Homo sapiens: one gene and its partner. The protein of the gene in region 1 purifies or fractionates together with the protein of each later gene. This does not show direct contact. Each region holds a gene or a part of one and is shown in the gene's direction. Other genes may lie near its edges. The genes, in order: ZP2 and FAR2.

The links.
Region 2: the proteins of ZP2 (region 1) and FAR2 purify together in Homo sapiens (affinity purification with mass spectrometry; one large-scale study listed by BioGRID and IntAct). This does not show direct contact.

The regions. Positions count from the first base shown.
Region 1 is NC_000016.10:21,205,046-21,208,873, reverse strand, and holds part of ZP2 (zona pellucida sperm-binding protein 2 isoform 1 preproprotein), read left to right. Parts: intron 1-1,883; coding exon 1,884-2,036; intron 2,037-3,098; coding exon 3,099-3,143; intron 3,144-3,289; coding exon 3,290-3,454; intron 3,455-3,828. UniProt on the Homo sapiens protein: Component of the zona pellucida, an extracellular matrix surrounding oocytes which mediates sperm binding, induction of the acrosome reaction and prevents post-fertilization polyspermy.
Region 2 is NC_000012.12:29,155,450-29,159,277, forward strand, and holds part of FAR2 (fatty acyl-CoA reductase 2), read left to right. Parts: intron 1-3,828. UniProt on the Homo sapiens protein: Catalyzes the reduction of saturated but not unsaturated C16 or C18 fatty acyl-CoA to fatty alcohols (FAls). A lower activity can be observed with shorter fatty acyl-CoA substrates.

The DNA.
Region 1 (3,828 bases):
TAATGGTGCCTGCTCCATGGGGGTAATGAAGACTAATGATGTTCTACAGATTAAGACCTGGTGCAGAACCTGGATACAACAAGTGATGAAACACGAGCTATTTTGATCTGTGAACCCCAACATGAGATGGAAGGCTATTTTGGTGCTAGCAAATAGAAATCTGACCTATAGAAACAGGTGTTAAAAGGCAAACAGCAGCTAAGCAGTAAGGGTTTTTCTATTGCCAAGCAACAGTATTGCCCAATCAGGAATATTAGGAGCAATAAAAGCAACCTGTCTAAGCAGAAGCTAGCAAGTTGTAATTTGGAAAGTTTGGGTTTGACTAGTTGGACATAGGCCTGGGGTGAGTTCTGGGAATCTGCATATCTAACAGTCTATACCATCTGATTACGATGCAGGTGGTCAGCAGTCTAAGCTTTGTACAGATACAGTCTTAGACCCTACTCTGTAAACAGGCTTGAACTGTAAGTCATCTGGTCCCCTAAAGCCCTCTGTGATCAATCAATGAAGTAATCATAGGTCCTTCATGAAAAACCTGATAATTTCCTTCTAAAACAGACCTTCTCAACATTAGAGGTCTTGGAGTCGCATTCCCTTAGACTAAGGGTCTGCAAGCCATAACCTGTGGATGGCCAAACGCAGTCCATGGTCTCTTTCTGAGGCAGGCTTGCTCTGTAGCCCAGGCTGGAAAGTAGTGGCTGCAATCATGGCTCACTGCAGCCTAGAACTGCTGGGCTCAAGGGATTCTCCCGTCTCAGCCTCCCAACTAGTTGGGGCTACAGGCATGCAACACTATGCCTGTCTAATCTTTGTCTTGTCAAAATGGGGATTTCACCATGTTGTCCAGGCTGGCCTCAAACTTCTGGCCTCAAGGGATCCTCCCACCTCAGCCTTCCAAAGCACTGGGATTATAGGCATGAACCACTGTGCCTAGTTCATGGGTTTTTTTTGTGTTTTTGTTTGTTTTTGTTTTGGTTTGGTTTTCAAACTAAGAATGGGTTTTATCTTCTTAATCTTCTTGAGACAGGGTCTTGCTGTTGTCCAGGCTGGCATGCAGTGGCATAATCTCGGCTCACTGCAACCTCTACCTCCCGGACTCAAGCAATCCCCTACCCTATGTCTCAGTACCACCTCAGCCTGCCCAGTAGCTGAGACCACAGGCATATACCACCACACCCAGCTAACTTTTGTGGTGTGTGTGTGTGTGTGTGTGTGTGTGTGTGTGTGTGTGTGTGTGTTTAATATATATATAGAGATGGAGTCTCTCACCATGTTGCACAGGCTGGTCTTGAACTCCTGAGCTCAAGCAGTCAGTCTGCCTCAGCCTCCCAAAGTGCTGGAGTTACAGGCAATGAGCCACCATGCCCAGCTGGCTTTTATCTTTTTAAAGTTCTTTTAAGGAAATATGCTATGGATTTCATGTGGCTCACATGAGTCTAAAACAGTTGCTAATGCATAATGGAAAAAGGTTGGCTGACCCCTGCTTTTAGACTGAGTTTCCTAAGGTCAGGGGTAATAGCAAGGGTAGCTCTACCCAGCACAATGGCAGCTACTTAGGTGCTTAACAAGTATTCAGATAACCTGGGTAGAAGCCCCATACCAACCCCATTCAGCCAGGACCATGGTACTGAGACATAGGGTACACATAAGAGAAATAGAAACTGAACTCCATTTCCTGATGCTAAAACTGGCCTATCAGCATGAGTCTTCACTAACAGATTACAATGGGCTAGCTAGTCTCCTGGTACGGGAATGAGGTACCTTCCAGCACTTGTGGTATTAGTAACTTTAAGGGTTTTCCCACTCAGATGGGTCAGATGGTATTCTAGAATCCCATGGGGGTACAGTACTTACTCTGTTCCCACTGTGCTATCTGTACACAGCATGGTGGACACCAGATGACCATCAGAGTCATGAACAACAGTGCTGCCTTAAGACACGGAGCTGTCATGTATCAGTTCTTCTGTCCAGCTATGCAAGTAGAAGAGACCCAGGGGCTTTCAGCATCTACAATCTGCCAGAAGGATTTCATGTCTGTGAGTGAAACGGGCTGACTGCTCGGGGTATATGGCTACTGCAGGGGGAATATGATGATGATCTAACCAGGGCGGGGCTTAGAAATCAGACCATGATTTAATCCTGTACTTGCTAATTTTCTGTGTGATGAGGTTTAACTTTACCCTGAGGCTTTGTTTCCAAGTCCAAAGTGATGGGACAATAATGCTTACCTCAGGGTGGCTCTAAGAATTTACTGAGGGTATATACATGGTACTTGGCACATCATGCATGGCAATAGGGTTTTATTGGTAGTTGCACTCACACTAATCATCTGACAAATGGAATACATGCCATGTTCCAGGCCCTACCCTAGATGCTAAGATACAATAAGTGAACAAAACGACCCAGTCACATCTTCATGGGTTTAGAGTCTAACATGGCTAATGTCAACAATGGACAACTAAAAATAACACTGACATAAAAGCAACTCAATAACAATGATAGAACTGCATGGCTTTTACATAGTACCTGATTTCTATGGACATTGGTGAAAGGGCAAACGTTTAAGAACATTGTCCTGGTCAGGCATGGTGGCTCATGCCTGTAATCCCAGCAATTTGGGAGGCTGAGGTAGGTGGATCACCTGAGGTCAGGAGTTTGAGACCAGCCTGACCAACATGGTGAAAACCCATCTCTACTAAATACAAAAAACTAGCCGGGTATGGTAGTACATTCCTGTAATCCCAGCTACTTGGGAGGCTGGGGCAGGAGAATCGCTTGAACCCAGGAGACGGAGGTTGCAGGGAGCCGAGATTGCACCATTGCACTCCAGCCTGGGCGATGAGCGAAACTCTATCTTGGGGGGAGAAATGTGTCCCAACTTACAACTGGAAAGGAGCTTAGATCTTCCAGCTGCCTCTTGGGATCAGAAGTTCAAAGAAGTATAATGACATCTAAGGGCACAGTCAGGGTTCATGTGCTTCTTCCACTGCATCCCACAGCAGGCCTTTTGGTATGACAACCACACAGCAATTTCTGGCATGAATTCGGAAACATCTACCTCCAAATCAAAGTCTTACATCACAATTCTTTTCTTCCAGTTTTCCTTGCCACGGGTCTTCTCTGGCTTGGCTGACGACAGTAAGGTATGAAGCAAATTTTAAAAATCAGACCTTAATAACCTTTAATTCTATGTTAAAGGTGATATTACCTTTAACCTGATAAATTGTTAGACTACCAGAGACTTGGTTAAGGGAGCACCAGCCCTCTAAACAAAGCTTTTTGACTTCAGGGGACCAAAGTTCAGATGGGATGGAGCATTGAGGTTGGTGATGGTGCAAGAGCCAAAACTCTGACCCTGCCAGAGGCCATGAAGGAAGGCTTCAGCCTCTTGATTGACAACCACAGGATGACCTTCCATGTGCCATTCAATGCCACTGGAGTGACTCACTATGTGGTAGGTGTGGAAGTCTGGCTTTGTACCACCAAAGCACAGGCCAGTATTCCTAAATTGAAGCATGATCTCAACCATGTCTTCACATTAATTTATAATACAACCCATTTTAATGCCTATTAAGTGCCAAACACTTCGCTGGGTATTCACACCTGTAATCCCAGCACTTTGGAAGGCTGAAGCGGGCAGATCGCTTGAGGTCAGGAGTTCAAGACCAGCCCGGCCAACCCTGTCTGTTTAGTGAAACCCTGTCTCTACTAAAAACACAAAAACTTAACTGGGTGAGATGGTACATGCCTATAATCCCAACTACTCAGGAGGCTGAGGTGGGAGAATCGCTTGAACCCAGGAGGTAGAAGTTGCAGTGAGCCGAGATT
Region 2 (3,828 bases), on another chromosome or scaffold:
CACACAGCTGTAGAATTCTTCCTTGGCTTCATCAGCTCTGTGTTCCAGCCCAGGGGTCAGCAGCTTTGGCCCAAGGCTGAAATCTGGCCCCTGCCTTTTTGTTTATTCTTTGAACTAAGAATGGTTCTTATATTTTTAAAACTTAGAAAAAATCAAAAGAATAATATTCTGTGACATGGGAAAAATTATAGGAAATTTAACGTATATGAAATTTAACCTTCAGTGTCTATAAATAAAGTTTTATCAGAAAACAGCTTGTATCATTCGTCTAGTCATCCCTATTGGCTATGACTGCTTTAGTGCCCTAACCAATCAATTATTATGACCTTTAAATCCTAATATATTTACCTTGTGGTCCTTTACAGAAAATGTTTGTTGACCCCTGCTCTAAGGCTATGAAACTCACCTGCCATAGGTAATCTTAATTGTTTTGTTTTTCATTTATTTAATTTATGAGGGGATAGAAATAAAATAGTTAAATTGACTTCCTAGTAGGTCCTCAAACATTATTGGCATTCAGGCACAGAAAGAGAAATACTGCATCATCTCATTTTTAGGTGGAATCTAAACATATTGAACTCATAAATAAAAGTAGAGAGAAGAATGGTGGTTACTAGAGGTTGAAGGCAAAAAGTGGTAGGGGTGCAGGGTGTGGGGAGGTGGGGGGAAGTTACTGGTCAAAGGGTTCAAATTTTCAGTTAGGCAGGAGGCATTCGTTTTGAGATCTACTGCACAGCGGAATGACTATAGTCAATGATAATGTACATTTAAAAATAACTAAGTAAATTTCAAATGTCTCACCAAAAAAAAGATAAGTGATGGCTACTGTATCCTCTGAATGTATGAAATTATAACTTGTAAATTTAAAATAATATTAATTTTAAAAATGAAACAAACTATTTTTGGCATTGGAGTCGTGACAATGCCAGTTTTTGTTGATGGCTGGTGTTGCTAACGCTACATGCCCATGTAAAGAGCAGAAGACAGTCGCAAAGGTGATCACTTGTAAATTTTATTCAAACATTTGAACTCATATATACAGGATAGGCACTCAGATAAATAAAACTACGGCATCCAGAGGTAAGGGGGAAATTAAATCTAATATAACTTAACTGTTTTATTTTATTACCTCTGAGCAGATTGGATTTCCTATGAGTAGTCGCCTCTGATTTTTATTTCAATAATGAAGCCAATCTTTTTTTATTATTAATGCACACTTTTATATGAATAGTGGTAGTTTAGGGGTGACAGCCTCAATTTTGGGTGACAGAAATACAAATTTCTCTGTCCCCACCTTAAACCTACTGAATCAGAATCTTTGGCGTGAGGATCCCCAGGGCTTTCATAAGTAGCTGCCACAGCATAGGGGGAGATTTTGGAATAGCTAGTCCAGGTATTTCCATGGAACGTAGAGTCAGAAAATAAGACCTTCGAGACCTGGTGCTTGGCTCTGTTACTGCTGTCATAAAATATTTTCAGACGAGGGTGTGCTGTGTGATCACAGAGTTTGGATTATGGGTCTCATTGCCAGCCATATTGATTGGAAGATTTCTGTGAGATATCTAACTTTATAAAGAGGACTGGTTTCAGGTGACATCTTCATTCAATAGACATTTTCCCACTTTAATCAACACCAGTATTAAAGCAAAGAACATTTTATATATATATATATATATATATATATATATATATATATGTATCAATGTGATTAAACAATGCAATTAAACAATGAAAATTGATTAAACAATGTGGTTAAACAATGAAAAAAAAGCCTTACTGTAATTGCCAGACACTAAGAATAACATTTGCTTGTTGATTTAGCTGTATTATTTCGAAGTCCTAGATCATTTTGTATCCTTAACTGCTGCAGGTTTGCAAAAGCATTTTTCATCCTGCAGTTGATAATATGTATCCCCTATGGCTTTTGGACATCTTGCTTTTAAGGCATTTTAACTTCCCAGGCTTCTCCAGAGACAGCCCCAAAACATTGAAGCCCACACCTGAAGGGAGGAAGAGAAAGCAAACACTCCTCCCTGTGAATTTGTGTAGAAAAGACAAAAATATGGCTTCTCCAACCACTTACTCATCCTTCCATCTTAGCTGGGAAGCTGTTGGATCAGTAGCATCTGCTGATGAATAACAGGATGACCATAGGAGGCAAGAATAATATTTCCTGAGCCAAGAAATGAGAAATAGTTATAAAAACACCCCACATTTTAGATCATTTTTTAAAAATCGTGCACTATTTATCACAGGTCATTGTGAGGGCACATTCCACAGAAGTGAGCAAAAATCCCAGGTATCCTTGAAAGCAAGATCCTTGGAAATTAGGATGGCAATTAAGTTATGTGTCTGGTCCCAACATATTTGAAACCACTTAAGCACTTCCAGCAGAGTTAGATTCACCAGTGCACAGTATTGTCAAGAAACCAAAAGAATCTGCCCAGAAGAAATGGATAAACTGAGTAAAAGAAACTGTAACAAGTCAGTGTTTGTGCATGTATTAAAGATTTTTGCTTATTATTTTCAATAAAGGATATTTAATACTGAAAGTTGTATGGATAGAAGTAACATAGTTTTAGCATCTTAAAGATGGATGGTATTCAGTTAGTGAAATCATAGAGCAATTTGCCTAAAACTTAAGAGAAACTGTTTACTTAAAATAATATTTGTTTCTGATAGATATTAAGTAAATATTAATGAAACCAACTTGATGTCAGTAAATAATAATAAGTAAAAAAACCAACTTTGTATTTCTCTATTTCACTGTAACTATTGTCTCATTTTGAATTGAATATTATTTCACTTGTGTTTTGTTTACACAAGACCTTCAGGACATATCTGCCCTGAAGCTAAGCACATGATCTAAAAGATGGGCACTTGTTCTTTTACCAAAGAGTTTTCTGGGGATTGAGATCCACTTACCAAACTATTCTCAAAGCTGCAGGAATCTTTGATGGCTTCAAAGAATTAATTTCCTTCATCCAAATGAGCAGTTTGCTTCTTTCTCAGCAACTTGTACTTGCCATAACTCTCTTCTTAGCAGAAGTGTGACATTGCCTCTTCCTTCTTTTCCTTCTGCTATTTTGGTGCAGTCCTGCCGGAGGCAATGGTTATGCAAGTGCCGCTGAATGCATTGCTGATCACAGGATGACACTTAGATAAATTTAGGTCTCAGTTTCTTTTAGGACAGAACAAACTTTTCCCAAATTAGACTTCCTTGAACTCCTAGACATACTATATGTTGGCACATATCACACCATCTTGTCTACAGTACATAGTAGTGAGTGCAAATAGCTTTGTCTTAACTAAGTATATTCACACTGGAAATTGTAGAATGTTCAAGTACCATATCTATATTTGGTTCAATTCTCTTAAAGAAAATAAAAGCCAGTCCTGAAGACGTAAAGTGGCTTGTCACACATCTAGTTAGTGGGTGCATCAAGGCTAGTATCCACATCTTATGACTGCAAATCCCATGACAATTCCATTCCATTCATTCATTTATTCATTTGTACTATTTACTGAGTACCTACTATGTGCCAGGCAGGGTGTTTAGCTTTGCAAATAGAATGCAAAACAAGTTATAGTACCAGCCCTCAAATTTTAGTACTCCCTACTCTTTGAGCAATATTTGGCCGGTTGCAACTTGGAGTTTGTGCAATTTTTCAGTAATGATACCCAATGTGTAAATATACAATGCTCATATATCTTTATTTTCCCTTCTTCCCTCTTCTAACTAGCCCCAGTCAATGACTTGACTTCCCATAGCACCAAGCACTTAACACCAATAAGAGTAAGATGGGAGGCCGGGCACGGTGGCTCATG